Linked DNA regions of Homo sapiens: regions 1 and 2 are each linked to region 3. The links come from fine-mapping of genetic effects on gene expression. A gene starts in region 3. Each other region holds a variant in brackets. All regions are shown on one strand. Distances are from middle to middle. Region 1 has its middle 32 kb from the start of SPDYE1. Region 2 holds the start of MIR6837 (microRNA 6837). Region 3 holds the start of POLM (DNA polymerase mu).

The links.
Region 1: its variant is fine-mapped to the expression of POLM in thyroid (GTEx, PIP 0.99).
Region 2: its variant is fine-mapped to the expression of POLM in whole blood (TOPMed, PIP above 0.99).

What each region holds. Positions count from the first base shown.
Region 1 is chr7:43,960,721-43,970,548 of GRCh38, forward strand. It overlaps the pseudogene POLR2J4. Among named protein-coding and RNA genes, the nearest start is that of SPDYE1, 32 kb to the right of the region's middle. The variant G/C (reference allele first, on the strand shown) is at 5,894.
Region 2 is chr7:44,048,382-44,059,569 of GRCh38, forward strand. It overlaps DBNL (drebrin like), which reads left to right. Exons shown (of 13, transcript NM_001014436.3): 2 at 1,844-1,899; 3 at 3,449-3,561; 4 at 4,486-4,560; 5 at 8,376-8,522; 6 at 9,401-9,478; 7 at 9,748-9,899; 8 at 10,051-10,099; 9 at 10,521-10,602; 10 at 10,973-11,068; 11 at 11,162-11,188. It overlaps MIR6837 (microRNA 6837), which reads left to right and starts at 3,385; the gene lies at 3,385-3,448. RefSeq lists enhancers at 10,990-11,149, 11,093-11,188. The variant T/C (reference allele first, on the strand shown) is at 5,537.
Region 3 is chr7:44,076,358-44,087,545 of GRCh38, forward strand. POLM (DNA polymerase mu) reads right to left here and starts at 6,173. Exons shown (of 11, transcript NM_013284.4): 1 at 5,894-6,173; 2 at 4,376-4,559; 3 at 3,504-3,602; 4 at 3,214-3,384; 5 at 2,383-2,454; 6 at 152-272. The coding sequence starts at 6,081. RefSeq lists enhancers at 3,200-4,107, 5,947-6,447 and a silencer at 6,159-6,738.

The DNA of each region.
Region 1 (9,828 bases), 120 kb before region 3:
TTGATCTCCAGTGTGATGGTGTTGAGTGGTGGGAGGTGGGAGGTGCTGAGGCTCTCATGAATGGATTAATGCCATTATTTTAGAAGTGGGTTTGTTACCCGAGAAGGGTGTCCAGGTTCTTGGTGTCATGAACAAAGAATTGGACAAAATGCACAAAGAAAGCAAGGAAAGAATGAGGCAACAAAAGCAGAGATTTATTGAAAATGAAGGTACACTTCACAGGGTGGGAGTGGCTTGAGCAAGTGGTTCAAGAGCCTGGTTACCGAATTTTTTGGGGGTTAAATATCCTCTAGAGGTTTCCCATTGGTTACTTGATGTACACCCTTGTAAATGAAGTAGTGCCCACAATCAGTCTGATTGGTTGAGGGAGGGGACCTATCAGAGGCTGAAGCAAGTTTCAAAGTTACACCCTATGCAAATCTCTGATTGATTGGGAAAAGGCTGAAGTGAAGTTACAAAGTTATACTCCTATGCAAATGAAGACTTGGCCCATGACCAGCCTCATTGGTTGTGGAAAGGGACCAATCAGAGGTACTTTCAATTTTTCATCTACCATGCAGAAAAAGGTTGGGGGTGGGGGTTGCAAAGGAAGTAGCCAAACAAACTCTGACTACAAACAGAGGTCCCAGTGGGTAGGGGGCTGGGACAAAGCTTTTGGGGGAGGGGGAGGACAGAGGACCTTGGGGCTGGGGGATCTAAGCTGGCCCCTCAATAAAGGGCCTCCTCGCCACCTCCCAGCCCACTGTCCCACCTCTGCCCTTGGCTCTGTTCCTTGCCTCCCTCCTGTCTGACCCCATCTGCCTCCTACAGGAGGAGCCCACCCACCCCCAAACACCTCCCAGCGTTCTGGGCCCAGCTCCTTCCCAGGCCTCACTGGTGCGACTCAGCTCCAGCTGGAAGAGCAGGTCCAGGAAGTCCTTGGCCAGCCCCTGCCCCAGGAAGAGCTTGAGCAGGTTCGTGGCCACGTCCTGGCGACACTCGGTGCTGGTTGTCTCCTCGATGAGTGGGATCAGCTGCCCTGGGCCCTGCAGGGAGAGGCACGGGGGATCCCGAACCTTTCCCTCTGAGGACCTCAGAGCATCCCAGGGAAAGAGGACATTTTCCCAAGGGGTGGCTGGGGATGGGGCCCTGGACACTGGCCAGCTCCTCACATCCCCAGACCTCAGGTTTCTGCTCTGCAGAATGGGTTTGGAAGGACAGGCGCACAGGCCTACTGCCACTGGACCCTCCCACCCTGCCCAGGTCCCCTCACCTGCATGCCCAGCTTGACCTCGTGGCACAGCAGGTGCACCAGTGGCTGGTAGTAGCTGGAGGGCAGCACCGTCTCGTCCCGCAGCCGCACCTCCAGCTGCAAGGAGCCCAGGTTGCCCCTGGAATGGGCAGCCTGTGACCTCTCCACCAGGGACTCAGGCCACCCTGGACCACACCGCTCCCATGGCCTCCAGTTTTTTCCCTTGGGGCCAGCCTCCCATCTCTCTGCTCATGCCCTCCATCCGGGTGCCCTGCACAGCTCTGCCTCCCAGGCTCTGCCCGGGCTATTTATTTTCTGTTTTTGGAAAGCCCTTCCTGTCTCTGCACTCAAGGCACCTCTATCTGTCTTCGAGGTGTGGCTCCCTGCCACCTCCAAGCTTGGGTATGTGGAGCTGCCAGCCTTGAATCTATCAACTCCCAGATAATGGCACCATCATGGGTACACTTTACAGCAGAAGCAAATCCCCAACCCTCATAACAACCTAATAGGGAAACTGAGACCCGAGCCAGTTCAGCAACTTGCCACATTAGATTGAGCTTCCCAGCTTCCCTGTTCTGATAGGGAAGTTCAGAACAGAGGAGGGTGTGGACCAAGTGGGAGCCTCTAAGGCTCCCACTGCCCGTGCTCAGCACGAGCCTCATGCACAGAGCAGTGTTAAGATGGGCCCCTGGGCCTGGCGCAGTGGCTCATGCCTGTAATCCCAGAACTTTGGGAGGCCAAGGCAGGCAGATCACTTGAGGTCATGAGTTCAAGACCAGCCTGGCTGACACGGCAAAACCCCATCTCTATTAAAATATATATATATAAATTAGCCAGGCATTGTGGCAGGTGCCTGTAATCGCAGCTACTCGGGAGACTGAGGCAGGAGAAGCGCTTCAACCCAGGAAGCAGAGGTTGCAGTGAGCCAGGATTGCACCACTGCACTCCAGCCTGACTCTGTCTCAAAAAAAATAAATAAATAAAAAATAAGATGGCAAGATGGGCCTTGGCTGGTTCTATGGAAACACCTTGTGCTGGACACACAGCCGTCCACCTGCTCCTACCCTGTTAAGGATGGGAACTGGGGGAGTGGGGGTCTGGGGCCTTCCACAGAGACACAAAGCTGAACCATTGAGGGCTGTGGGCCACAGCAAACAAGCCAGAGGGCTTCCTAGACAGGCTGCCAGATTTAGCAAAACGACCCAAGACACCCAGTTAAATGTGAATATTTTATTTACTTATTTTTTTTTTTTAGAGATGGGGTCTTGCTATGTTGCCCAGGCTGGTCTTGAACTCCTGGGCTCAAGTGATCCTCCTGCCTTGGCCTCCCAAAGTGCTGAGATTATAGGCATGCGCCACCATACCCGGCCTAAATTTGAATATTTTTAGTATAGGTATGTCTCAAATAGTGCATGGTCATTCTTCTTCTTTATTTATTTATTTTTTTTGCTGAGATGGAGTCCTGCTCTGTCACCCAGGCTGGAGTGCAGTGGCACGATCTCGGCTCACTGCAGCCTCCACCTCCCAGATTCAAGCAATTCTCCATCCTCAGCCTCCCAAGTAGCTGAGATTAGAGGTGCCCGCCACCACATCCGGGTAATTTTTGTATTTTTAGTAGAGCCTCACCATGTTGGCCAGGCTGGTCTTGAACTCCTGATCTCATGATCCACCCGCCTCGGCCACCCAAAGTGCTGAGATTACAGGCATGAGCCACCGCACCCAGCTGTTTTCTTGAGACGGAGTTTCGCTCTTGTCACAGAGGCTGGAGTGCAGTGGTGGGATCTCGGCTCACTGCAACCTCCATCTCCTGGGTTCAAGCAATTATCCTGCTTCAGCCTCCCAAGTAGCTTGGATTACAGGTGCCCACCACCATTTTTTGTACTTTTAGTAGAGACGGTGTTTCACCATGTTGGCCAGGCTGGTCTCGAACTCTTGACCTCAAGTGATCCACCCGCCTCAAACTCCCAAAGTGTTGGGATTACAGGTGTGAGTCACCACGCCCAGCGGTTATTCTTATACTAAAAAAGTATTCACAGCCGGGCACAGGTCAGGAGTTCAACATCAAGCCCGGCCATCACGGTGAAACCCCATCTCTACTAAAACTACAAAAAATTAGCCAGGTGAGGTGGTCCTAGCTACCCGGAACGTTGAGGTGGGAGGATTGCTTGCACCCAGGAGGTGGAGTCTACAGTGAGCTATGATCACCACTGCACTGGTGGTACAGGTGCATGCCTGTAATCCCAGCTACTCGGGAGGCTGAGGCATGAGAATTGCTTGAACCTGGGAGGCAGAGGTTGCAGTGAGCCAAGACCATGCCACTGCACTCCATCCAGCCTAGGTGACAGAGTGAGATGCTGCTCAAAAAAAAAAAAAAAAAAAAATTATTCACTGTTTATCTGAAATTAAGTTTTAACTGGGTGTTCTTTTTTTTTTTTTTTGAGACAGAGTCTAGCTTTGTCACCCAGGCTAGAGTGCAATGGCGCAATCTTGGCTCACTACAACCTCTGCCTCCGGGGTTCAAGCAATTCTGCCTGCCTCAGCCTCCCGAGTAGCTGGGATTACAGGCGCCCGCCATCTGGCCAGGCTGGTCTCAAACTCCTGACCTCAGGTGATCCGCCCACCTCGACCTCCCAAAGTGCTGGGATTACAGGCGTGAGCCACCGAGCCTGGCCTAATTTTTATTTCTTTGTAGAGACAGAGTCTCACTTTCTTGCCCAGGCTGGTCTCAAACTCCTTGCCCCAAGTGATCCTCCCACCTTGGCCTCCCAAAGAGCTGGGATTACAGGCATGAGCCACCGCTCCTGGCCAACGGTGTCCTATCTTATCTCACAACCCTATTCCTGGAGAATCTGGCATAGGGAGTTGGAGCTATGGCTCAGGGACACTGACCTTGGAGACTTGAACCCTGGTCTGAGGTCTGCAGGGAAATTTTCAAAGGGAAAATGTCTGAGTACTTGTTTCAGAAACTTCCAGAGGCAGAAAGCAGGAGACCTGTACAACCTGTGAGCTAAGAAGACAGACCTGGCCGGGTTTGGTGGCCCATGCCTGTAATCCTAGCACTTTGGCAGGCTGAGGCGGGTGGATCACTTGAGGTCAGGTGTTCGAGACCAACTTGGCCAACATGGTGAAACCCTGTCTCTACTAAAAATACAAAAATTAGCCGAGCATGGTGGCACACAGTTGTAATCCCAACTAATCAGGAGGTTGAGGCAGGAGGATCACTGGAACCCAGGAGGTGGAGGTTGCAGTGAGCCAAGATTGTGCCGCTGCACTCCAGCCTGGGTGACAGAGCAAGACTCCATCTCAAAAAAAAAAAAAAAAAAAAAAAAAAGACAGAAGACAGAGCTGAGCTGAATGCAGAACTGTGGGGAAAAATAAAGGGGAGGGGCCGGGCGCGGTGGCTCATGCCTGTAATCCCAGTACTTGGGGAGGCCGAGGCAGGTGGATCACCAGGTCAGGAGATCGAGACCATCCTGGCTAACATGGTGAAACCCTGTCTCTACTAAAAATGCAAAACATTAGCCAGGCGCAGTGGCGGGTGCCTGTAGTCCCAGCTACTTGGGAGGCTGAGGCAGGAGAATGGCGTGAACCTGGGAGGCAGAGCCTGCAGTGAGTCGAGATCACGCCATTGCACTCCAGCCTGGGGACAGAGTGAGACTCCATCTCAAAATAAATAAATAAATAAATAAATAAATAAATAAATAAATAAATAAATAATAAATAAAGGGGAGGTGGAGCCCAGCCGGGATGAGAAGGATGCTGGCTAGGTGGGCAGGGGCTGAGGGGACCCTGGAGCTGTGTCTCCTGACCTCTCACCCCTGAGCAGCCCCCCTGCCCTGCCTGCCTGTAGCCAATTCCCAAATGTCAGCCCCCACCCCACCCCTTGAGGCCGGCTGCCCAGCTCCATGCACTTACTCGTCATGCTGCCGGCTCTTGGACTGGTCGGGCTGCAGCCGGAACCAGCCCTCCTCCTGCTGCGCCACCCGCAGTCTCTGGACATCGATCACCACCTGGGGACATAGTGGCAGTTTTCCTGGAGCTGGGAGACTTAGGTCTCCTCCTTGCCAACTACTGTTCTTAGTGGGGAGGGGCCTCTTCCAAGGGTCCCTGAGTGCCAGTGGTGGTGGGGGGAAGTTGCTGGTTCTGGCAGACGGTGGAGGTGGGGGGGTAGTCCCAGGCTTCCTGAGTGTCCCTCTTTGGGGAAGCCAGAAGGAGGTCCCTGAGGATGGGATGGCTGCAATGGAGCCAGGTGCTGGGGGACAGCAGGTGCAGCCTGCCGGGGGAGGAGGGGGGGCGGGGCGGTGGTGCTCACTTTGCCCAGGAAGTCGTTTCGGCTGACAAGGTCCCAGTCCCAGGCCTCCACGCACAGCGCCTCCACGGCCCCCTCCTGCAGCTCAAATTCAAACGTCTCATTCCAGCGTGGGTAGCATGACTTCTTCATGATCTGCCCAGAGGAGGGTGGGAGGGGGTTAGGCTGATGCCACTGGACTCCCCAGGCTGGGCAAAAGGCAGAGCTGCCCTAGACACCTCCCCTGGGTTCCCCACAGCCTCCTCGCCTTGGAGGTTCTGCCACAGCAGAGGTTAAAATGTCCTGTCCAAGCTCCCACCCATTTCTCAGATGGGGAGAACTGAGGCCCAGGGTGGGGAAAAGATGTATCCGAG[G/C]CCACACAGCAGAACAGTACTGACTATGAGGATGTGGTGAACAGGGAATACCTCTACACTGCTGGTGGGAATGTGAACTAGTACAACCACTATGGAAAACAGCGGAGATTCCTTAACTAACTAAAAGTAGAACTACCATTTGATTCAGCAATCCCACTACTGGATATCTACCCAGAGGAGAAGTCATTATACAAAAAAGATACCTGCACACATATGTTTTTGTTTTGTTTGTTTTGTTTTGTTTTTGAAACAGTCTTGCTCTGTCGCCCAGGCTGGAGTGCAGTGGCACGATCTCAGCTCACTGCAACCTCCGCCTTCTGGGTTCAAGTGATTCTCCTGCCTCAGCCTCCCAAGTAGCTGGGATTTCAGGGGCCTGCCGCTACGCCCAGCTAATTTTCGTATTTTTAGTAGAGACAGGGTTTCACCAGGTTGGCCAGGCTGCCCTCAAACTCCTGACCTCAGGTGATCCGCCTGCCTTGGCCTCCCAAAGTGCTGGGATTACAGGCGTGAGCCACCGCGCCTGGCCCTTTTATTCTTTTCTTTTTTTTTTTAAACAGGGTCTTGCTCTGTTGCTCAGGCTGGAGTACAGTGATGCAATCATAGCTCACTGCAGCCTCCACCTCCTGGGCTCAAGCAATCCTCCCACGTCAGCCTCCCAAGTAGTTGGCACTATAGGTGTGCCCCACCACACCTGGCTAATTTTTAAATTTTTTTGTAGAGACTGGATCTTGCTGTTGCCCAGGCTGGTCTCGAAATCCGGGCCTCAAGAGATCCTCCCACCTCTGCTTCCCAAAGCACTGGGATTACTGGAGTGAGCCGCTGCACCCTGCCAGTATCCCCTACTTAGAACTCTTTGTGGAAGAACACCAAAGCCCACTCATCTTCGATATTTTAAGCCTCTCATACCTGCCTTTCTTCCCCCTCAAGACTGTCTAATAAAACCCCCCAACATTGAGGCTGGGTGCAGCGGCTCATTCCTATAATCCCAGCACTTTGGGAAGGAGGCTGAGGCAGGAGAATTGCTTGAACCTGGGGAGGCAGAGGTTGCAGTGAGCCAAGAAAACGCCACTGCACTCCAGCCTGGGCGACAGAGCCAGACTGCCTCAAAAAAAAAAAAAACACCAAAAAAAAAAACAGCCCGGGTGCAGTGGCTCACGCCTGTAATCCCAGTACTTTGGGAGGCCGAGGCAGGCAGATCACCTGAGGTCAGGAGTTTGAGACCAGCCTAGCCAACATAGTGAAGTCTCGTCTCTACTAAAACTACAAAAAATTAGCCAGGCGTGGTGGTGCACACCTGTAATCCCAGCTACTAGGGAGGCTGAGGCAGGAGAATTGCTTGAACCCAGAAGGTGGAGGTTGCAGTGAGCTGAGATCGGGCCACTGCACTCCAGCCTGGATGATGGAGCGAGATTGTCTCAAAAACAAAAAACAAAAAAACCCCAAGGTTTTACTGAAATATTGAGAATCTCCCCAGAAAAAATAAGGAGGAAATGTTCTTTCTTCCTCTGCAGCAAATGGACCTTCTTAGGCTGACTTGGAATTGCAGCAGGAGTCTCATTGCCGAGGACAACGGGGGACAAGTCCCCTCACTCTGAGAGAGGCCTGGACATTCCTCTCCCCTGCTAGGACTCACTAGAAGGCCAACCACTGTGGCCCCAGAGGATGGGAGAGGGGAGATTCCTGGAGAGAGGGGAGGGCCAGGGAGACATGCTTCCATGCCTCCCATCTCCGTGGGTGACGATGGGTGCCTGGGAGAAGTGGCCCCGAGGTCCCAGAGCCCGGCCACGTGTGTGAGCGGGTGCACACGTGTGCATGCCTGTCCCCCAGACAGCCTGGTGCCCAGAAAGGATAAGGATGGAAGAAGCAGGTGAGTTGGGGTGGGGCGGGGGGGAATGAATGGCAGGGCCAGAGAGTGAGCGAGTGTGGGGGCGTGGCTGAGGCTCGGCCCAAGCCCAGACATTTTCCATCCATTTCTATTTTCCCAGGACAGAAAATAACTCCCGGGAAGCCAGAGTGAGCAACATGGGCATCATCCGACCCACACCCCTCTGCCCAAGGGAAGTCTTCCTCTTAGACAGGCTGACCCCTCAAGGGTGGGGGGAACACTGGCTCCATAGGGCTGCCTGGCTGGGGGCCACCCTCCTGCCTCACAGGCAGGGAGCAACTTGGGGAGGTGGGTTTGGAGCTGGAAGGGAAGACGCTTCTCACGGACAGAGTGTGACTCAGACCCAGGCCCAGACGGGAGTGCAGCCTGCAGCTAAAAATACCCTGGGGGTTGGGGGGTGGCCCTGTCACAGGTGACTCAGGCCCATGGAACCATCCAAACCACTGTCCCTCCTTGGGGGAACCCTCAATTTGCCCATCGGGAGATTTTCAGCAACTCTTTTCACCCCCCCAGCCCCACGAGGGACCCACTTACACACACTCCCACCAGGCCAAGTTCACACTGGCGTTAAACATAAGGAAGCCGGCCTTAGCACTGGGGGACTGAGGCTGTGTGATCAGAGTTCGGGGTCTCCTCACCCGTACCCCCTACTCCACTCCTCTGTGATGGCTCCAGTTCCTCCATGAGAACATTAGACTGTCCCTTAAGGGACATATCCCCTTGAGTGGAAATCACCCAAGAAGCATCTTCAAGTCCAGAAAACCTCCCCAGACCCTCTCTTTTTTCTTTCTTTTTTTTTTTTTTTTTTGAGATGCAGTCTCGCTTGTCACCCAGGCTGGAGTGCAGTGGCGCCATCTCGGCTCACTGCAACCTCTGCCTCCTGGGTTCAAGACTCCTGCCTCAGCCTCCTGAGTAGCTGAGATTACAGGCGCCTGCCACCATGCCCGGCTAATTGTTGTATTTTTAGTAGAGACAGGGTCTCACCATGGTGGTCAGGCTGGTCTTGAACTCCTGGCCTCAGGTGAACCACCTGCCTCGGCCTCCTAAAGTGCTGGGATTACAGGTGTGAGACACTGTGCCTGGCGAGACCCTCTCTTGAGAGCAGGCTTTGATGGGAGGTGGCCAGCTCTGGGACCAGGAGGTAGAGGTGGGGCGAGGGGGGGCTCAGCTTCCTCATTGGGTTTCTCTAGTTGCAGGGGACCCACTGCCCGCCCCCAGGCCCCTGAGTCTCACCTGGCCTCCAGCACAGAGCAGCGTAGCTGGCAGGCCCGGGCCCCTGGGCGCACTTCCAGCCGCAGGTGGATCTCGCCCTGCACCTCCTCATCAGGGTCAACCTCCGTCAGGTGGGCCCACCCGCTGAAACCTGTGGGGTCAGCTCAGCCAGGGACACGGCCCTGAACCCCCATACCCTCCACCCTCAGCCCTACCAGGCACCTTGAGGCACCTCCATAATCTCCTGGGAATCCCCTAGGCACCCGTGAAGCAGGGGCTGGTATCCCCAATGACAGATGGGGAAACTGAGGCTCAGCAGGTGAAGAAACAGCAGTTGGAAGAGCTGGGATTAGAATCTAAGTCAGTGACCTGGGGCCTGTGCCCTCACTATTGTGTCATTTTTGTCGTTGTTGTTTTTAGAGACAGGGTCTCACCCTGTGAGCCAGGTGTGGTGGCGCATGCCTGTAATCCCAGCTCCTCAGGAGGCTGAGGCAGGAGAATTACTTGAACTCAGATCGCACCATTGCACTCCAGACTGGGTGACAGAGCAAGACCCCATCTCAAAAAAAAAAAAAAAAAAAAAAAAAAAAAGATGGAGTCTTGCTATGTTGCTCAGGCTGGTCTCAAACTCCTGACCTCAAGCAATCCTCCCACCTCAGCCTCCCAAGGTGCTGGGATTATGAGCGTGGGCCGCTGTACCCAGCCAGATTCCCCATCTTAAAACGGGAAGAGAGTGGCCCTCCCCTAGGGCTGCTGGGAGGAGGGTCTGAGGCCCAGATGGAGAAGCTACAAGATTGCGCCATTGCACTCCAGACTGGGTGACAGAGCAAGACCCCAT
Region 2 (11,188 bases), 28 kb before region 3:
ATCTTTCTCTTGTTTTTCTGTGTTCTTTTCTCTAGTTCCTTTTCTCTGAGTGTTTCTCATTCAGTGTTTCTCTCCTGTATTCTGTCTCCCCTCCTGGTAAGGAGTGCCTTTTCCCGGAGGCCTGTCTCCTCCCTACCAACCAGATCCACTGGGCCTGGGTCTAATTTCTTCCATTTTTCTGAGGCATAAGTATCTCTGCCCAGTGGCACTGGCAAAGCCCTGGGGAAGCCAAGTTGAAGCTGATTTGGTTCCTGTCCGACTGTTTATCCCTGGAGCTTCTGTCTGGCCTGCCTCAGCAGGCCTGTGCTTTAGAGCCTGGGGAGATGACACACACTGGACTGGGTTTTGCCTTTGACTTATAGTCCAGTGGGTCAGTGCCTCCAGCCCATGTCCAGCAGCCCTGCTGGGGATGTTCAGTTGCTGCAAGGTTCATGCTATTAGCAAGCCAGAATGAATCTTTACCAGAGTTTTGTTTTTGTTTTTGTTTTTAAGAGTTGGGGTTTCACTCTGTTGTTTGGGCTGGAGTACAATGGCATCATCATGGCTCACTGTAGCCTCGACCTCCCAGGCTTAAGCAATCCTCCCACCTCAGCCTCCCGAGTAGTTGGGACTACGGGCATATGCCACCACGCCTGGCTGATTTTTGTATTTTTGGTAGAGACAGGGTCCCACCATGTTGCCCAGGCTGGTCTCAAACTCCTGGGCTCAAGCGACCCTCCTGCCTCAGCCTCCCAAAGTCCTGGGATTACAGACACGAGCCACCCACCTGGCCCAGAGTTCTGTTCTTTTTTTTGAGATGGAGTCTCACTCTGTTGCCCAGGCTGGAGTGCAGTGGCGCGATCTTGGCTCACTGCAAGCCCCGCCTCCCGGGTTCATGCCATTCTCCTGCCTCAACCTCCTGAGTAGCTGGGACTACAGGTGCCTGCTGCCACGCCCAGCTGATTTTTTGTATTTTTAGTAGAGATGGGATTTCACCGTGTTAGCCAGAATGGTCTCGATCTCCTGACCTCGTGATCCACATCTGCCCGCCTCGGCCTCCCAGAGTGCTGGGATTACAGGCGTGAGCCACTGCGCCCAGCCCAAAGTTCTTATGAATAATTAATCTTTCAGGAAAAGAAAGCCATGGCCCCATGTCACCCATGGAGAGATAAGGCTCTGCTAGATAGAAAACTTGCTCATGGGTACCTGTCCGTGAGGGGCTTGGCAGGTTCATGGCTTTAACTGTGTGATTTCATGTCGTGTCATTCCTTTGTGGTTTCTGATAAACACAACCTGTGGTAGTCTGTGTTTACCAAAGAGTCTCAAGCCTGGAAGGACCTGCTGCCCTACCCACCAGGCTTCACTGGAGCCAGGGCAGACGTGCACAGGAGTGGTGGGCAGCCTTCCAAGGGGCCCAGTGTGTGTATTTCTCCGACTTGCTTCTCCTTTTGGGTGCTCTGGGTTCAGGAATATGTAGATATGTTTTGTCTCTTCAAATCCATATACCTAGTGGCCAGGTGAGTATTTGACACATGAATGTATAGCAGTCATTGGGAAACTCCACAGCTCATGTTTTCCTCATAGTAGATGTGTGCTCCCATCTCCATGGCTTTGTCCCTCACAACCCCCACCCCATGGTAAGTCAGGCCAGTGTCCTCCCAGCTGCAGAGCTGAGAAGGCTGCACAGTTGCCTACTGAGAACCTGCCTAGTGGGTCAGAGCAAAGTGAGAACGGGCCTGTGCCCACCCACAGTGTTACTGTCAGCCCAAGCTCTTTGGGATGTAGTGGAAAGTCATGGTGGATACGGTGAGGAGAGATGGAACCCAAGGTGCTGGCTACAGAGCTCACTTGTGTTTCGTTTCAGGGCTCTCTTTACCTATGAAGGCAACAGCAATGACATCCGCGTGGCTGGCACAGGGGGTGAGTATGACTCCAAATGGACTCAGGGACACCAGGAGGTAGGAGGGTGACGACGAGGGGTCAGCGCACTCAGCTGTCTTGGTCCACTGAGCCACATGGGGCTTCCAGTGCTCACTGGCCACTTCTGGCAGGCCTTAGGTTTCAGATATGTGTAAGTGAAAACATTCCTCCTTGGTTCTCCTTCCCTCTGGGTGCAGGGGAGTGCTTTCTCTTTGTCTACTTGGGGAGAGCTGAGAGGGAAACAGGCCTCTCCAGCTTGTGGGCAGCCTGCGTTGGGAGCTGCGGTGGGAAGCTCACCAGTCCCAGAACTGGTGCTGGTGGAAAGAAAGTCCACAGACATATCTTCTTCTCCCTTTGTCCTGCCCTGGTCTTGTGCCGAGTGCTTGCAGGGGCCCCATCCTCACTGGGAGAGGCAGTATCACTGCAGATAGTCACGGGGGAGGCTCTGGAGGTCTCTACAGGAAGGACAGGCTCTTGGCCAGCACAGAGCAGAGGTTGTCAGGGTAGGCTTCGTCAGAGTGTGACCTGTGGGCCCCTCAGCTGACACCCGTGACTGCTCCTCCTCCAGAAGTTGCCTGACCCCTCCCTCTGTCCTGAGCTGGACATGGCTTCATTGTTCAATGAACACTCGGAGTGGTTCTCCACGGTTTGATGTCTGTTGTTGGTAGAAAGCCCCTTCCTTTCACAATCTTTCTGGGAGGTGTCCCCTTTCTAGAAGGATTGCCATTGAACAGTAGACATGTGGTGTGGCAGGTGACTGGGAGTTGCAGAGATCAACAACTTGAGAGTTTCCTGTCATCCCCAGTGGCACAGGACAGGGCTCTGCCACAAATGCAACAATTTGCTGTCCCCAGAGTGGGGCTCATGACTGCCTCCACTCATACGGAGCCCTGTAGATGAAATACCTGATCAGCTCTTCCTCCTTATAACCTGGAAAAGTTTGTGAGGGCTAAGCCTCAGTGTCAGGGAGAATTGTTTAGAGCTGCCCACTCCTGTGCTCCCCCTGTCCCCATCACCCTCTCTTCTGGAGTCTGAGGACTGAGCCAGTTACGCCACTGCAGGATGTTCAATCTGGTCTGGCCGTCTGGGTGGCCCTGGAACTTGAGCAGACACAGGTGCAGGCAGTGGTGACTCTACAGGCCCTGCTATTCCGGGCCCTTTTGCAACGTTGTGGCAACAATAAAATTTTGACGTAGCCATCCTCCATTTGGAAGTCTGGTGGCTGGTTTGCCGTGGAAATGACCCTGTTTTTATTTCCAGAATTACCTCTGGGTTTAGAGAAGTGGTTTTTAAACGAGTGTGGGTAAAAAAAATTACCTGAGGTACTTGTCAGAATCGCAGACTTCTAGGTCCCACCCAGCTCTCATCAATCAGTTTAGTGAGGGTGGTGCCCAGGACTCTGATTTTAAACATACCCCTAGAAAGATTCTGATACAGGTAGAGGTGAGAAGCCCTGGTTTAGAAGCAGCTCGGCCTCCCTTCATGGTGGGACCAGGGCCAGCAGGGAATGTCAGGGCCACCCCTGACCTTCACTGTGACTCTGCTGCAGAGGGTGGCCTGGAGGAGATGGTGGAGGAGCTCAACAGCGGGAAGGTGATGTACGCCTTCTGCAGAGTGAAGGACCCCAACTCTGGACTGCCCAAATTTGTCCTCATCAACTGGGTATGTGGAGCCTGTTTCATCTAGGTGTGACCCAGGAAACCCCATTGTCTTCTTTCCTGTTTTGACTTGACTTCAGGAACAAAGTGTTTTACTGGCATGACTTAGTAGATCAATAGAACAGCTCTGAGCTGGTGAATGAGCAGAATAGTTGACAGATTCATTGTGGCCCAAAGAATAACTGTGGCTTTGCTATGCAGAATTCACCTTCCAAGCCTAGAGTTCTTCCTGCAAAATGGATTAAAAGCAGTCACAGGGAGTCCTTGCTCCGTGCTCTTGAGGGTGGTTGTTCTGATGGAGTAGAGAGCCTGAGGGAGTGTTTAGGAGCCTGGGAGTACAGGGACAGGGCCTCCTTGATCCCTTGGTGGGGATCAAGAAAACTCTTGAAGGCTGGGTGGGGTGGCTCACACCTGTCATCCTAGAACTTTGGGAGGCCGAGGTGGGTGGACTGCCTGAGCTCAGGAGTTTGAGACCAGCCTGGGCAACATGGTGAAACCCCATCTCTACTAAAATACAAAAAATTAGCTGGGCATGGCAGCGTGCACCTGTAGTCCCAGCTACTCAGGAGGCTGAGGCAAGAGAATTGCTTGAACCCAGGAGGCAGAAGTTGCAGTGAGCCAAGATTGCGCCACTGTACTCCAGCCTGGGCCACAGAGCAAGACTCCATCTCCAAAAAAAAAAAAAAAAAGAAAATTCATGAAATGCCCCCACAGCGAAAGCCGGTAGCCATCCTGCCCAGGGAGAATCCATGAGCCCCTTGGAGGCATGGGAACTTACCTCACCCATGTGATGCAGTCAGAAGAATAGGTTCTGCTTTGGGGGTTGCAGTTTTCTCTTTTCTGGGACACAGGGTAGATGTTGGGTCCCCAGGGAAGGGAAGTGGCTTTGGGGGAGGCCTGGGTCAACCTGGGCATCCTTGTGTTGCAGACAGGCGAGGGCGTGAACGATGTGCGGAAGGGAGCCTGTGCCAGCCACGTCAGCACCATGGCCAGCTTCCTGAAGGTAAGGCCAGGTGAGGCCCGCTTCACTGGGAACAGGCCTCACAGGCTTGAGGTCTCGCAGGTTCCTGGGTGCGAGCAAGTGGGAATCAGAACTGGAGTTGGGAGTGTGCTCATAGCTAATGCTCTCTGCCTGCCTTTGAGGGCATGACCAGAGGCTGCTTCACTCTCGGTCAGTGAGTGCATGGGAGGTCAGGATGTTGCCAGGGCCACCTACAGGCCTGCCTCAGTGGGGCAGGATAAAGGACTATGCTGGAGCTGGTGCCGTGAGAAGGGTGGGCCCTGGTTCTGTTTTGTTTTATGATCCCTCTAAACAGTTTAGTAATACCGTCAGGATTTGGAGGAAGGGGAGAGTGCCCACCATCTTAGCACGCATGTGCCCTTTTGATGCATTCCTTTCCAGCCCCCTCTACATGGAGTTATGTCAGTCCTATAATAGAACCTTTTTAAATTTTAAAAACTATTTGTAACAAAAGCATTTGTTGGTCACTTGTCAGGTAACTTTTTGCATTTCTCTGGCAAAGGAGACTCAGAATTTTGATTTCTCGTTCTGCCAACATTTCTTCAGCTATACCTCAGTTTCCATCTAGGAGCTGATAAGAGAATTCCCAGCTTATCGATATACAGGTTTGAGTATCCTTTATCTGAAATGCTTAGGACCAGAAATGTTTTGGATTTTTTCAGATTTGGGAATGTTTTCAGTTCAGCATCCAAAATCCGAAATTCTCCAGAATCTGAATTTTTTTTTTTTTTTTTTGAGACTGAGTCTCGCTCCGTTGCCCAGGCTGGAGTGCAGTGGCGTGATCTTGGCTCACTGCAAGCTCCGCCTCCCGGGTTCACACCATTCTTCTGCCTCAGCCTCCCGATTAGCTGGGACTGCAGGCACCCGCCACCACGCCCAGCTAATTTTTTGTATTTTTAGTAGAGACGGGGTTTCACTGTGTTAGCCAGGATGGTCTCGATCTCCTGACCTCGTGATT[T/C]GCCCGCCTTGGCCTCCCAAAGTGCTAGGATTACAGGCGTGAACCACCACGCCCAGCCCAGAATCTGAGATTTTTTGAGTGCTGACATAATGCTTAAAGGAAATGTTCATTGGAGCAGTTCAGATTTTGGAATTTTAGGTAAGGGATGCTCAACCTGTATAGCAACAGTGAATGACGTCATGGGTCTGGCTTCTTATGAAGAAATCATTGGCTTACTTTTTGTAGAAAACATGCATGGCATTCTTTTATCAGAGTTTTTTTTAATTGTTTTGTTTTTTGTTTGTTTGTTTGTTTTGAGACAGTCTCACTCTGTCACCCAGGCTGGAACGCAGTGGCACGATCTCGGCTCACTGCAACCTCTGCCTCCCAGGTTCAAGTGATTTTCCTGCCTCAGCCTCCTGAGTAGTTGGGATTACAGGTGCCTGCCACCATGCCCGGCTAAGTTTTCTATTTTTAGTAGAGATGGTGTTTCCCTGTGTTGGCCAGGCTGGTCTGGAATCCCTGAGCTCAAGTGATCTGCCCTCTTCAGCTTCCCAAAGTGCTGGGATTACAGGCGAGAGCCACCGCACCTGGCCCAGAGTTTTTATAAATTGATATATAATAGTTGTACATATTTTTTGCATACATGTCATATTTTGATACCTGTATACAATGTATACGATGAATCAGGGTAATTAGCATGTTCATCACCTCAAACATTTATCTTTTCTTTGTGTTGGGAACATTACAATTTTTCTCTTCTAGCTAATTTGAAATACACAAAATTATTGTTAACTATAATTTCCCTTCTGTACTATTGAATACTAGAATTTATTCCTTCTATTTAACTGTACTTTTGTACCTGTTAAGCAACTTCTCTTCATTTTCTCTCCCCCATGCCCTTCCCAACCCCTGGTAACCAGCATTCTACTCTCTCCCTCCATGATACCCACTTTTTTAGCTCCCACATGAGTGAGAACATGCAATACTTGTCTTCTGTGCCTGGCTTATTTCCCTTAACATCATGACCTCCAGTTCCATCCATGTTGCTGCAAATGACAGGATGCCATTCTGTTTTATGGCTGAATAATATTCCCTCATGTTTATATACTAAATTTTCTTTACCCTTTCATCCATTGATGGACGTTTTGGTTGATTCCGTATCTTGGCTATTGTTAATAGCGCTGAACTTCAGAGTTGGATATATCCCCAGCAGCTGGATTGCTAGATCATATGGTAGTTCTGCTTTTAGTAGGACTAAAATACTGTTTTAAAAACCATACTGTTGTCTAGGCGCGATGGCTCACGCCTGTAATCCCAGCAGTTTGGGAGGCCAAGGTGAACAGATTACCTGAGGTCAGGAGTTCAAGACCAGCCTGGCCAACATGGTGAAACCCCGTCTCTACTAAAAAAATACAACAATTAGCCAGGTGTGGTGGCGGGCACCTGTAATCCCAGCTACTCAGGAAGCTGAGGCAGAGAATCTCTTGAACCTGGGAGGTGGAGGTTGCAGTGAGCCGAGATTGTCCACTGCACTCCAGCCTGGGCAACAGAGTAAGACTCTGTCTCAGAAAAAAACCCAAAAAACCATACTGTTTTTATAATGGCTGTACTACTTTACATTCCTACCAACAGTGTATAAGAATTTCCCTTTCTCCACATCCTTGCTAGCATTTATTTTTTATGTTTTTTATAATAGCCATTCTAACTGTGGTGAGATGATAGCCCGTTATGGTTTTGGTTTGCATTTCCCTGATGATGGTTAGTGATGTTGAGCATTTTTTTGTATGTAGTTAGCCATGCGTATATCATCTTTCGAGAAATATCTGTTAAGGTCTTTTGCCCATTTTAAAATCAGATTATTATTTTTTTGCTACTGAGTTGTTTGAGTTCCTTATATATTCTGGTCACTAATTCCTTGTCAGATGGATAGTTTGAAGATATTTTCTCCCATTCTGTAGGTTGTCTGTTTACTTTGTTGATTGTTTCATTTGCTGTGCAGAAGCCTTTTAGCTTGATGTAGTCCAATTGGTTGATTTTTGCTTTTGTTGCCTGGGCTTTTGAGGTCTTAACCCAAAAAAAATCTTTGCCCAGATCAATGTCCAGGGGCATCTACCCAGTGTTTTCTTTGAGTAGTTTCATAGTTTCAGGTCTTACATTTAAGTCTTTTTAACCCATTTTGAGTTTTTTTTTAATATGGTAAAAGATGAAGATTTAGTTTCATTCTTCTGCATATGGATATCCAATTTTCCTAGCCCTGTTTATGAAGGAGACCGTCCTTTCCCCAGTGTATGTTCCTGTCACCTTTGTTAAAAATGAGTTGGCTGTGTGTGTGAGTGCTCTGTTAGTTTCCATTGTTGTGTCTGTGTTTATGCCTGTACCATGCTGTTTTGCTTACTGTAGTTTTGTAGTTTAATTTGAAATCAGGTAGCATGAAGCCTCCAGCTTTGTACTTTTTGCTTCAGATTGCTTTAGCTATTCAGGGTCTTTTGTGGCTTCCAGATGGCATTTAAAATTAGTTTTCATTGATTAGAAGGAAGGCCTTTGATGCAAATTATGCCTGGGCTGTCTATTGATACACAGCAGGGAACAGCTACAGAAGGAACCACTGGATAGCACAGTGGAGGTCAAGGGTCTCACGTGAACTGGGACAAGAATGAGGGGTTTGCTCCAAGTTGGTTTGTTTGAGCCCTTGAGGGGAACTCGTGCCTCAGTTTTCAGCAGCCAGACAGGTGCCTTCTAGTTTCCTGATTCCAGTCCTGTGTGGTATAGTAGTGGCCCGTGCTGTATGGACTGACAGGAGTTTGGCCCATCTCCTGGGCTTGCAAAGCCCTTCTTTCAAGTGCTGCTCCTGCTGCAGGGGGCCCATGTGACCATCAACGCACGGGCCGAGGAGGATGTGGAGCCTGAGTGCATCATGGAGAAGGTGGCCAAGGCTTCAGGTGCCAACTACAGCTTTCACAAGGAGAGTGGCCGCTTCCAGGACGTGGGACCCCAGGCCCCAGTGGTGAGTGCTGCTTGCCCATCGCCAGCCCTTTTGTTGCTCAGGGCCTGAGGCAGGGGGCCAGGAATATGCACTTCCCAGCACCCGGGCTGGCTGGGCCCATGCCTGCTTAGTTTCTGCAGATGGTAACCCCTGAGCTGTGGTGATTGCCCACTGACCAGATGAGCAGGAATAGCCCTCTGACCTTGCCTAGGGGTTGGACTAGCTGTTCTGGAGCCTTCCTCTGGAGCCCAGCCTGTGTGGTCAGAGTGGAGGCTCTGCAGCATGCATGGCTATGATAGTCTGGCTGCCCTCAAGGTCATGGCACTGGAACATCTTGGGCTGCCCCTGGAGGTAGCCACCGTGGAGGAACTAAAGGAGGCATCAAGGCGGAGCCTGAAACCAGAGCAGGCCCCTTGGAGTCACGGGAGATACCTGTGGGCCTGTGGCCCCAGTGCTGTGTGGAGCTGATGGCTGGGAGCTGCGTCCGCATGCGTGTGGTTGGACGTGATTCCTTGGATGCTCTTGTGGTAGTCAGCTGTCTGAGTGCCCCTGGTCAGAGGCCTGCCTCAGAACTGCCCAATGTCTAGGAGTCTGCAGGTGGGGTATGGGGGCCTTTCTTGCCCTGGCCCCCATCCATGAGGGCGAGAGACCACCAGAGACCCCTCTAGTGTTGTCTGGGATTGAGCATCCCCCTTGGGGCAGTGTCCTGGGCTTCTTTCAGGTCATCTTGGTGTGTGTCTCCTTGAGGGTCACTGGGCAGTGCTCTGCTGCCTCTGCTGGGTCCAGTCCTAGCAGCACTCACCTGTGCTGTCGCAAGTTTAGCGTATTCTCTCCTTTGGTGCCTGTGGGCCTGGCCTTCCACCTGGGTCCAGGTCTCTAATGAGTGCTGTCCCCTACAGGGCTCTGTGTACCAGAAGACCAATGCCGTGTCTGAGATTAAAAGGGTTGGTAAAGACAGCTTCTGGGCCAAAGCAGAGGTGAGTGCTGCCCCGGGGCATGCTGGGCACGTGGGAGTGTTCTGCTTGCTGTGGCTCATCTTTCCTCACAAGTGAGCTCATGCAGCATCCACTCTCCTTGGTGCCCATTACAGATGGTCACACTGAGGCTCGGGTAAGTTAAGCCACAAGGCTAATGATCGACTGGCTCTGGTGCCCGTCTTTGGCCATGTGCCTAAAACTCAGTCCTGGGCAGGGGATTAGGCTGAAGTGGCAGCATAGGGCTGAGCGGGCAGTGGCTCTCCCTGCAGAAGGAGGAGGAGAACCGTCGGCTGGAGGAAAAGCGGCGGGCCGAGGAGGCACAGCGGCAGCTGGAGCAGGAGCGCCGGGAGCGTGAGCTGCGTGAGGCTGCACGCCGGGAGCAGCGCTATCAGGAGCAGGGTGGCGAGGCCAGCCCCCAGAGGTGAGCCAGAGGTGGAGGCTGGCCTGGGGGACCCACCCTGAGGCATTGCTGGGCACCTGCTCCATCCCATGGAGGCGAGGAGGACTAAGGGGTGTGGCATGAGAAGCTGTGACTGTGCCTCAGCTGTGCCCCACCCGGCCCTTCCCAGCAGGACGTGGGAGCAGCAGCAAGAAGTGGTTTCAAGGAACCGAAATGAGCAGGTAAGATGGGGGTGCTCTACTTGTTTGGACCTGTCCTGGCCACACGCAGAAGTCCCTGATCTCGGATTGAGGGCCCAGCCCAGACCTGGGCAGAGGCTGCCCTGCAGTCAGCTGGGGCAGGTTGGAATCTGGGCACCTCAAGAGGTGGCAGTAGAGAGGAAAGCCAAAGGCGGAAGCGTCGGGCTTGGACCACACCTGGTCCTGGGGGAGGCCCTGGGAGCCCCTTGGCTTCTGTGTTTTACTTCCTTTTTTAACGTTACTTTTTATTTTTAAATGACTTCTCTCCTGAGAACATGTTTTGCCTCCTGGCCCCACACTCACCTTTGAGGGGCTACTGGGCCGACAGCTGGAGGGGCTGTGATCTGGGGAGAGGTGGTGAAGGTTTTGCCCACTGCAGGGGTCAACATGTGCTTCCCTCCAGGAGTCTGCCGTGCACCCGAGGGAGATTTTCAAGCAGAAGGAGAGGGCCATGTCCACCACCTCCATCTCCAGTCCTCAGCCTGGTGAGCTCTCCCTTTGGGCCTGGCCATGAGGCAGCAGCAGGCTGAGGGGGAGCCTGGGGTCCTATGTGGGCTCCCCCAAGGCTAGTGACAGATATATCGGTGACGGGTGAGTGAGTGAGGAGAAGGGACACCTGGGGCCATTGACCTCATCAGTGACCACACTGGTCACCAGTTTGGCCTCCAAAAGATATTGGGCTGCGCTGTCTACCACGTCACCACATAGCACATGGCCCTGGGGCCTCTGTTCCTGCACTAGCAAGAGCAAGCCCCATGAGACTGCCTCGAGCACACCAGGGTGGAGGGTGCTGTGGGGTGCGTGGGTGTGTGGTGGTGTTTCTGAAGTGATGTATATATTTACCCGGGTTTGCAGGCAAGCTGAGGAGCCCCTTCCTGCAGAAGCAGCTCACCCAACCAGAGACCCACTTTGGCAGAGAGCCAGCTGCTGCCATCTCAAGGCCCAGGGCAGGCAAGGCGCTTGTCACCCCATGGGGACCCTGGGGGACAGCAGTGGAGAAGGGGGATGTGTGGGAGTGAGAACCTGCTGTGTTCCCTGGTGCAGATCTCCCTGCTGAGGAGCCGGCGCCCA
Region 3 (11,188 bases):
GCACTGGGTGGAGACCCCAGGAAGCCCACCACACAAAGCTGCCACCAAACCCTCTGCACCAGACTGCTCCCTTCCCTCTAGGGAGTTGATGCTGAGGGATCCAGGGTGCAGTTTAGGGAAGCCCAGGGCCCAGCCTCTCTGGAGGGCTCACCCGCTTTCTGCTGTTGGGTTAGTTTCTGGGGCTGCTCTCGGAGGTCATCTAAGGTTCGCAGTCCTTCCCGGTACCACCGGTCAGCAGTCTTCACACCGACCCCGAAGATCTGGGTGAAGAGCTGTGGGGAAGGAGCGTAGCCCGGTTGGGCAGAGCTCTCATGGCTAGACTCGGATGATCACCCGCTCCGGGACGGTGTGGCCCATGGAGCACCATGCACCAGGCAGGCGCCGTCCCCACTCGCAACCTGCCGTAGACCACAGGGCAAGGATTCAAACCTGGAGCCTGACTACCCAGCCTGCCGTCTCTGGGAACAAACCCACGCACACCCCTCTCCTCTCCTCTATGAAAGGGACTTACACAGCTCTAGCCTGTGATTCCAACATAATCAAAACAGTCACCCTAACACATCAGCACGAGGGGCTCCTAAGTCACTGGAAAAACCATGCCTCTCCCACCTAACAGAAGGTGGAACAAATTTCTGTGGTTCTCCTCCTTAGCCAACAGCAAAAAACAATGAGGAGTTAACAATCAAAAGGGTGGATTTAGGAGCAGAGTTGGCAGGGCTGGCTGGGGTGCTCACATATCTTCCCACAGAGGGTGGGCCCCAGCCCAAGCAAGTCACCTGCTTCAGGTCAGCCACTAGAGTCCCTCCCTAGGAATTCTGGATCTGAGACTGAGGGCAGGCCCACACAGTGGCAGAAGCTGTAGCCTGTGGCAGCCGAGCACCTTTTGTGGCCACATTTCCAACCGATGGAAGAAGCTGGTGCGTCGCAAGAGAGGGCGAAGCCACCGTGCAGAGGGGCAGAGGGGAGGAGGAGTGGCCTGGTGATACCCAGGTCGCTGAGCCCAGTTGTCCTGCAGACCGGCCACAGCCCTCCCCATCCTGGGCTCTGCTGGCCCTCCTTTCCTTTATTTTGTGAACCAACGGTGTGGGGTGGGTCACTGTCACTTGCAACCCAAAGAATCCTGACTAAAAATGATGAGATTAACCCAATTATATTGTTAATAAACTTCTCATTACTAATGTAATTTTCTGCCAGCCTAGATGCCTTCAGGGCTGGGGCTGAGGCTGACAGTGAAAGTACTCACTAACCTCACACCACTTCAAGGGGATTTCATCATCTTCAGGCCCCTCACTCCCACACTCACCACGGTGGCCCCACTCATCTGGTCCCCTGTCCCTGCCAGTGCCCCTTGCCCCCTTCCCTGCATATTTGAGCCCATTTGCCCTGCACACACTGCTCAAGTCTCTCCTCTTCGAAGCCCTCCCTGTCAATCCTGACAACATTCTGTGTGACCTCCCAAGGCCCCATCCACCCAGGAAGCCACACTTCACTGACAGTTATCCATGTGGCCACCGCTGTGACACCTCCAGCCACAAAGCCAGTTGGCAGAAGGGTGTCAAAGCAGGCACACCCGAGGCATCCAAAAGAACTCAGACGGCATTTCCCTATCAGACCAGGAGTGAGCAGAAACAGAGGGAAGGTGGCCATGGAAACAGGCAGGCTGACAACACTGAGAAAATAACACATAAGGTCCTGCAGAAGGCGGGCAAGGGCAAGCCCAGCATGCTCAGTGGCAGCACCCAAGGGTACATTTGGTTCACAGTGCTCTGTTTAAGATGCCACAGCATGTAATCTACTTGAGAATATTCCATCAAAAACAGTCAAGGCAGAGCGAAGTGGCTCATGCCTATAATCCCAGCATTTTGGGGACCAAGGCAGGAGAATCATTTGAGCATAGGGGTTTGAGACCAGCTTAGGCAACATTACCAAGACCCCATCTTTACGAGAAAGATTTAAAAATTAACCTGGTGTGGTGGCACATGCCTGTAGTCCCAGCTACTCCAGAGACTGAGGTGGGAGGATGGTTTGAGCCCAGGAAGTCAAGGCTGCCGTGAGCTGTGATCGCACCACTGTACTCCAGCCTGGGCGACAGAGCGAGACCCTGTCTCAAAAACAAAATAAAACAAAAAGCCCCAAAAGCCAGATGGTGCTGAGTGATCTAGAAAATTCTGTCCTCAAAACAAGCTTCTTCCTTGCCTGTCTCCACTTGGCTGCCTTGTGCATATCAGGTATCAGCTTAGCTGCCACTTCCTCGGCAAGACCTTCTCTGACCCCTGGGCTGGGTCAGCTGCCCCTGTTTGCCTCCCCGTGCATGGTGTGGACTGTGTTGTCATTCCCAGGGCAGGACATTCCTGGGGTAGGTCCGAGCCCTGCCCTGCGCACCTTCATGGTCTGGTACCTCTCTGAGCGCCGAACTCTCTCCACCTCCTCACACACTCCATGCTCCAGCAGCTCCTGGGGGAGGGAACAAAGCAGAACTCTAAGCCTGAGGGCGTGGGAAGAAAGAGAAGGGCGGGGAGTTAGGGTCAGGGCTGGGGGCCCAAGGACTGAGGCAGTCCCCTCCAACACCCGGCAGAGACAACTTTGTGAGGTCAGGGTCCAGTAGGACCTGGAAATGGAGACTGTGCCCAGGGAGGTGACCAAAGTTGCTGCCACACAGCTGGGAGGTCAGGGCTCCAGCCTCAAAGCTCCTTCGGGCCTGGAGTTACAGCAGCTGAGATGCCAGGTAACGTGGATCATCTCTCAGTCAAATAAGTCCCAAGATACATAAACAATTGCTTTTCAGAACATGTGAACTCAATACTACTTCATTTAAAAGCATCTTCTGTCACTGTGTATTCTTGCAATGAAAGTGCACTAAAGGACAACTAAACACACTGGGGCACTGAAAAGAGATGCTCACACTCAGGGTGCTCTCTTTCATTCCACTGTGGAGGGCAGTTTGGGACTAATGACAATGACAACAGTGTCACCCCTAGCCCTGCCAGGCCCCTCACAGCGCCATTCACTGGGTCCTCTAGGCCACCCAGGAGTAAATGGCTAGTGTGCACAGGAGGAATCTGAGCGCAGAGGGTGGCTTGTTGAGGCCTTGGAGCAGTGTCAGCACCCACGACTGTCTGTCCTCACCCACCCCCACAGCACCCTCTGCTGTCTCACCAGGCCCCAAGGCCTCCCCACCCACCCACTCACCCTGCTAGGATGGTAAGCACCTACCTGGACAACCCTAGAGGAGTGTTCTCCAAAGTGGGGAAGCCCCTGCAGCTGGCTCAGGGTTGTGACAGGGCTGGGAAGGGCCTTGAGCACCGAGGCTGCTCTGCAGAAGGTGAGGAGGCGGCCCTCACTGCCTTCAAAGCCTGCTGCCTCGGCCAGTATCTCCAGAGCCTCCTGCAGGGAGGGGCCCTAGGTAAGGGGCAGGGTGGGCAGCTCCAATCCCCCACCTACCACCCATCTGTACCCTTGTCCCCAACCCCCAGGGCTGGCCAAGGCTCATAGAAGCGGCTTACGGAGAGGCCAGTGTTGTGGTGTGTGAGGGGCGTAGGGCGCTGGCAGGCATAGGCAGGCATCCATGCTGGGCTCAGAGGCCCCTTCCTTGGCCCAGCCACCTGGGGATGGGCAATAAACAGGTCACTGTGAGGCTGCAGGGCTGGCAGGAGAGCCAGGCCGTACTCAGGCTTTGTTTCTCCTGGGGTGTCCAACTCGGGCCCTCTGGAGCTCATGGGACAGAGGTGGGCAACAAAACACCAGCGGCATGAGGCTGAGGGAGGCACCGCCCTGCAGAACAGGCTGTGCATGGGGCTCCTCATGCCAGGGTAGCAGCAATCACATCTGCCAGCCCTGTGGGCACTTCTCCTGCTGCTGCACATGATGCATGTACTCCATCACCCCAATCCTCACAACCAAGCGGGCTGGGGATGCTGAGGCCTTGGAGGCTAGGGGCTTGCCCCACAACCATGGCTCACAGGCTGGGCCAGGATTTGAAGGCAGGCAACCTGGCCCCAAGCCCACACCTGTCAGAGGCCGGGAGCCTTATAGCATCCAGAGGACAGGCTCCTGCTAACCCATGGGTCATCCCGCTCGGAGTTGCTGTGTCATCTACTTGGTGAGGAAGAAAGGCCTGAAGAAGGTAAAAATAAGCAGACCCCAGAATTTGCATCAGTGGTGAGAACAGAAGCTGAGATGGCCTGGCCCCCTCAGCCCCTTCTGTGGTTCCTCTACTGGTTTATAGGGGGCCCCTGGTGATCTGGGTAGAGTCTTCACTGCCCACCTCCTCTGAAGGACATTGAGGCATTGCTGCCATGTCACCTGTCCCAGCTGAGCAATGGCCTACACTGGGGCTTTCACTGTAGCCCCCACTTTAGTCTTCCACCCAGCTCACCTCCAGGCGGTGCCGGCACTCCACAGGTACAGGCTGCCCAGCTCCCAGGCTCTCTGTTAACCAGCTTATGTCCAGCAGAGCTGGGGGGGTGCAACCCGGGGGAGCAGCTGCCATCCTGCGCTCCTGCCAGCTGACGGCCTCCTCTGCTGAGGTCTCTTCCATCACAACATGTGTCGCTTCGGAGCTGGTGGAGGGAGTTGGGAGAGAAGGAGGAGGGTGAGGCCCAGAGCCCGTCCTGGTTGGCTCCAAGCCTTCACTCTTGCCGTCCCTTCTGCATGGTAAGTGACCATTCATCCTGCAAACGTCACCTCCTCCAGAAAGCCTTCCCAGCCCCTCCTCCTGGTAGATGAACACCTCCACCACTCAGCCCTCAGAACCGTAGTTCTCTGCCCTGGCTATGTTCACAAGCACAGCCCAGTCTTGTGCTCTCTCCCTCCCTCTTCACCTCAAAGAAAGGAATTCCTTAGGGTCAGGACCAGGTGGTCTTCATCTAAGAGCAAGGGTTTCAGCAGAGATGGAGGAGCCTGTTTGGGTCTGAACCCCAGCTCTGCCTGCCACATACTTGTTTGGCTCTTGGGCAAGCCACGTGTCTATACTTTGATTTCCTCTTCTGTAAAGCAGAGATAACATATCCACCCTGTGGGGTTGTTGTACAAAGATAGTGCCTTGTACACTCTAAGCTGCTATCATCCTCTCCTGAGTGGGTCTGGCGCACTACTGATCCCTGGTAATGTTAAAAAATCAAACACAACTGTGGGGGAATACTAGCCCCAGGTTCGTTTGCTCTCTCAACCTCCAAACTAGGGGGCACCCCCAGCTCCCTTACTCTGGGTGTTGTCTCTGTAGCCGCCATTTTTTCTTCTCTTGGTTCCCTTCCTACAAGAGCTTCTCAGTCGTGTTATTTACTCAGGCCTGAGGACAGAGGAGCCTGCGGGCTCCGGGCCTCTTGAGAAGTCAGTCTCGCTCACAGGTGGGACATAGCCCAGGCAGAAGGGCTGTTAGCAAATACGACTTTTTTTTTTTTTTTTTTTGAGACAGAGTCTCACTCTGTCGCCCAGGCTGGAGTGCAGTGGCGCGATCTCGGCTCACTGCAAGCTCCGCCTCCCAGGTTCATGCCATTCTCCTGCCTCAGCCTCCCGAGTAGCTGGGACTACAGGTGCCCGCCACCACCTCCGGTTAATTTTTTGTATTTTTAGTAGAGACGGGGTTTCACCGTGTTAGCCAGGATGGTCTCGATCTCCTGACCTCGTGATCTGCCCGCCTCGGCCTCCCAAAGTGCTGGGATTACAGGCGTGAGCCACCGCGCCCGGCCTACTGCTTATTAATTACCCCTGACCTCTGGTTTTGATTCTCGCAGTGATCCTTTAAAACACGCCTCGCCCTAATTAATAGCACCCTTTACAGAAGAGGAGATGGAGGCTCAGGGAAAGGTCACAAGACCACGAAGTGCCACTGCAAACTTAGAATCCAAAACCAGAAGTGCCATGGAAGCCCTCGCCGCGCCGCGCCGCCCCGCACCTGCAGGCGTCAAGGACGCGGAAGCCTTTGGAGCGCGCCAGGCCTGTGAGGAAGGCCCGGCGGCTGCGACCCATGCGAGGCTCGACCAGGTAGATGGCGACTCCCGGGAAGCGCGTCGAGGGCGGCGTGGAGGAAGCGGCATCGCCGCTAGGGGACCCGACCCGCGCTCGCCGCCGTTTGGGGAGCATTGGGACGACAGCCTCCAGCAGCGCGGAGCGAACGCAGAGGGAAACTCCGAGCGAGACGGAAGGAAGCCCCAGTGAGGCTGACGGAAGCGGGTGGGCGGGCGGGCGGCCGCCGGCTGGAAGAGGACGTGGCCCCGCCCTATGCAAATGAGGCCTCTCCGTGGGGCTCGCTACTTGGGCCAGTCGGAGCGCTGGGGAGGGTCCGGGCTCCTACAGGATTGGGTGTCCCGGCCGCTCCGGAAGACCCGCCTCCATGCAAATAACGGCAGAGGACCCGCCTTTTATTTAAATTAATGTCTCGGAAAGCGCTGTTCGGCCCCATTGGCCTCCGGGAGGAGAGGCTGGGCTGGAGCGGGGCGGGGAGGGTGTTGGAGGGGGTGGAGGAGGCGGGGTCAAGGGGGCGTCCCCGGCTAGGGAGGGTGAACTGGGACCTAGGCCCGGGCGGAGCGGGGTGGGCTGTGTCCTTGGCGCCGGGGCTGGGTCTAGGGTTGAGCCGGCGGCTCGGGGCGGACGCGTGCGGGCTGTGCCCGATCCCTCTGCGCTCGGGACTGTCACACGGAAGCCGGCGGGCGCAGGACCGACACGCGGGTTTCCAATGCGCTGGTGGGGCGGTCGCTTCAAACACGCGGGAAGATTTTTCAGTCGAATGGCATTAGGACAACTGGCAGGCCATTTGGAAAAATAGAAGTTGGTGCCCTTCCTCATTCCTTAACACCAAAATAAATTCCAGATGGGTCAAACATTTCCATCTAAAAAGGAAACCAACAACGTACTGGAAAAAAGTCGGTGAATGTTTTTATGATCTAAATATCACAATAAACTTGGAAACACTAAAGGAAAAGAATGATAAACTGGACTACAGACAAATTTTAAATCTGATTAAAAATTAGAGTCAGAAGATAAACTGGGATAAAGTGTGAGATATTTTGGAATTAAGATTATCTCATGATAATCTTATCAAATTGTCCATAGATAAAAAGACAATAATTTAATAGAAAAATTAGCAAAAAAACTCACGTAGATGATTCTTAGAAGAAATCCTGGTCAATAAATTTATGACCAGAGTGCCCAACCTGTCCAGTCGTTACAGAATACCTAAATGAGAATATCTTCAGTTGTGGGTTTATCAAACATTCAAAAAAATTGACCACACATGTTGAAGGTGCGAGGTAATTGGCAATCCATAGGAAGGACTGTGGAAGCCAATGTGGCAACCACATCCAACAAAATGAAAACAAAATAATACACATTGATCCAGCAATTCCTTTCCCAAGATTGGGATTGCATTGAATCTATAGATCAAGCTGGGGAAATCTGATGTCTTGATAATATCAAGTCTTCTGTCTATCTTATTTAGATATACTCCATTTGTAACCTCTGTTACGGTAGTGTGGCACTGCTCAGCCTAACTGATGGGACACCAGATCAGATGCAACCCCCTTCCACATGCCTCTCCTCATCACTGCCCCATCGTCCTCAGTCTTGAGCCCCAGACTCCTTGAGCACCTATCCTTTTTCTTTGGCTCCTCTCTGACATCTTTAGTGGGCTGGCTCTTCCCCATCTCTGCACTCAGAGCACAGGGCTGAGGGGAGTGGGGGAGATGGCTCAGCCCAGGCATCCTCTTGACCTCCTACACCATCTCCCAGCCTCCTAATTCATCTACCTCTTCAGGGCTGTAGAGCTTCCTGGGCCTCAGGACCCACATACAGAAGCCAGGAGGCCTGCGTATGGTCCCTCTCTCCCCATCCTCCCCTTGTGCCAGCAGGGATGGGCAGGCTCTAAGGGTCTTCGTCTGTGGATCTGGCTCCTACCCTTCTCAAGGAGGAGGCTCTGCCCAAATATCCCCTGAGCAGATCCCTCTAGCTGTCTAAAACCATTTCTGTTCCTTTTAATGTCCTCTGTCTGGCCAGAGCACCTGGGCTCCCCTTGGAGCCCTTGTTCTCTCCTGGGAAGGCAGAGGCAGTTTTTAAGACTATGAGACCTGAATACTTAAAACACTGGGCAACTGTGCAAAAATGTTTGTGCAAGGAATCTCATCCAAATGACAGTGGAAGAAACTGCCTAGCTTAGAAATCAGCCAGGCCCTCTGAGTGGTTGCTGCAAAGTGTCTGCTAGGACAACATGGGGCTGAAGGATTCATGAAGATTGGCCAGTGGGGGCAAGAAGGGGTGAGGAGGTGGGGAGAGAGAGGGACTTGCCTGCTCTGCAGGACGAAGATGTGCCCTATACCCAGGGAGAGGTGGCCTGCCGTGGAGGTGAAACCACCTTTGCAGAATTGTAAGTCATGAGAGAAATCTAACATGACTGCCTCCCTCTTGCATCTAACCTCACAGACTAAATTGGTTTTCTTATTTCTTTTTTTTTCTTCTTCTTCTTGTAGTGCAGAGGCCAACATAACTATGAGAGGAATTTAGTTCATAGTTAAAGGCAAGAAAAACTGACCCCCTCCTTGTTTGGAGATTGAAACCACATTCATAAGACAAGGTTAGAATTGTGGTGGGGCCTGAACTTTGCTAAAGAATGGGCATAAACAGCGACCTGCCGTTTCTCACTTGGCTTGCTTTTCTATAATGCTTACTGCCCTGGAGTCACATAGCCGGAAATCTCAAGATTTCTAACTTCTCCAGCTGCTCATATAGAGGCCGGGCACAGTGGCTCACACCTGTAATTCCAGCACTTTCGGAGGCCAAGGCGGGTGGATCACTGGAGGTCAGGAGTTCGAGACCAGCCTGGCCAACATGGTGAAACTCTATCTCCCTAAAAATACAAAAAAATTAGCTGGGAGTGGTGACACATGCCTGTAATCCCAGCTACTCAGGAGGCTGAGGCAGGAGAATTGCTTGAAGCTGGGAGGTGGAGTTTGCAGTGAGCTGAGATCATGCCACTGCACTCCAGCCTGGGAGACAGAGCAAGACTCCGTCTCAAAAAAAAAAAAAAAAAATCACTATTATGAAACCTAAAGAACTTTGAGATATTTTCTAGATTTAGAATTTTAGCAGACCAAGAGACACTACCTGGACCTGTGACCCACACCAAGAAACTGACTCAGCTGCTTGAAGATAGTTTTGATACCTCTGTGATTTCATCCACTGCCAATCAGTTGTCTCAGCTCCCTAGTCCCCTGCTTGCTGAAGCACCCTTAAAAACACTAGCCTCTGAATTCTGGGGGAGGTGGTTTTGAGAATTATCTTTCATCCTCCTTGCTTGTCTGGCCCTGCAATTACAAAACTTTCTCTGCTGCAACAGTGCCCCCACTGGAGAACATGGTGAGGGGGTGTCCCTGCTGGAGGATGGTTGGGGAGGGGGTCCCTGCTTGAGGATGTGGGAGGTATACCTGCTGGAGGAGGGGTGAGGGAGGGTGTCCCACTGGAAGATGGGGGTGGGGCGCAGTGGGGAGCCATACTAGGGCCAAGAATATCCCCAGGACTGGAGGTAGCTTTTGCAGCTTAAACAAGAGGCATAGTCGCGAGGGCAGGTTAGGACTTGGGTGTGTCCAAGAGGCACTTGGAAGGAGTTGCCCTTCCCAGAGGGTGGCCCTTGAGCTATGGAAAAGATCCCACTGAAAGGAGATGGTTAGATTATCTCCTGCACATTGGAAATTGTCTTTGAGTTTCCATCTTCAATGGGCCTGGTTTCCCTGTACTTGTCTGTGGTGGTCACTGTGGGAAGGCAGTGAGGAGTGGGTCTGGGGAGGGAGAGGGACTGCCACAGGGGCAGCAGTGGCCACCCCCCACAGGTCCAGACCATCCCCTCTCCAGAGTACAGTGGAGCAGGGTACACCTAAGAGCTCCAAATAATACTTAGGCCCAGGCCCCTCCCCAAATAATCCAGTTTAATTGGTCTGGATATGGCTTGGGCATTGGCATTTTATTTATTATTATTAATTTTTTAGAGACAAGGTCTCACTCTGTCACCGAGGCTGGAGTGCAGTGGCACAATCACTCTTGGCTCTTGTGCTCAAGTGGTACTTCTACCTCAGATTCCTGAGTGGCTGGGACTACAGGCATGTGCCCCCACGCCTGGCTAATTTTTTTAAGTTATTTTTTGTAGAGATGGGGGCTCTCACTATGTTGTCCAGGCTAGTCTCAAACTCCTGGCCTCAAGCAGTCCTCCCACCTGAGTCTCCCAAAGCGCTGGGATTACTGGCATGAGCCACCAAACCCGGCCGACATTGGCATTTTTAAAGTTCCCCAGTGACTGATGTGTGGCCAAGGTTGAGATTCACTGCTCTAGAGGGAGGGGACCCTTCAGGGAGATGGAGACCCTGACAAGAAGCTTACGCGTGTAAAAGTGAGAGCTGAGAACCACCTGAATATCCAGTGACCAAGAGCTGGTGGAATAAATGTTGCTGTGTTCATACTGTGGAATATTATGCAGCCATTAAAAATGATTCTGTGAAGTTTTACTCTTAATCACCCAAAACTGTAAACACTCCAGATGTTCTTGACCCAGGGAACAGCTTCACACACTGGTGTGTGCATCCCATGGAATGCTAAGGAACATTGAGATGAAGGGAACCGGTAATGCAGCAGCTTGGGTGAGTCTTCAGTGCCTCATGCTAAGTGGCAGGAGACACATATGCTCTGATCCCATTTATATGACAACTCGGAAAAGGCAAAACTATAGGATAGAAAACAGACCAGTGATGGGCAAGGCTGGGAGCTGGGGTCGACTACAAAGAGTTTGAAGGCATTTGGGGGTGATGGAATGTCCTCTATCTTGACTGTGGTGGGAGTTACAGGTTACAAGACTGTGTTTGTCAAATTCATAGAATTATGAACTGAAAAGGGTGAATTTTACAGTATGGCAACTATACCGCACTCAGCCTGACTTTTAAAAACTGGTGCTGGCTGGGCGCAGTGGCTCACGCCTATAATCCCAGTACTTTGGGAGGCCGGGGTGGCAGATCAGGTGAGGTCATGAGTTCAAGACCAGCCTGGCCAACATGGAGAACCCGTATCTCTACTAAAAATACAAAAATTAGCCGGCCATGATGATGGGTGCCTGTAATCCCAGCTACTCGAGAGGCTGAGGCAGGAGATTGCTTGAACCCGGGAGGCGGAGCTTGCAATGAGCCGAGATCGCGCCATTGCACTCCAGCCTGGGTGA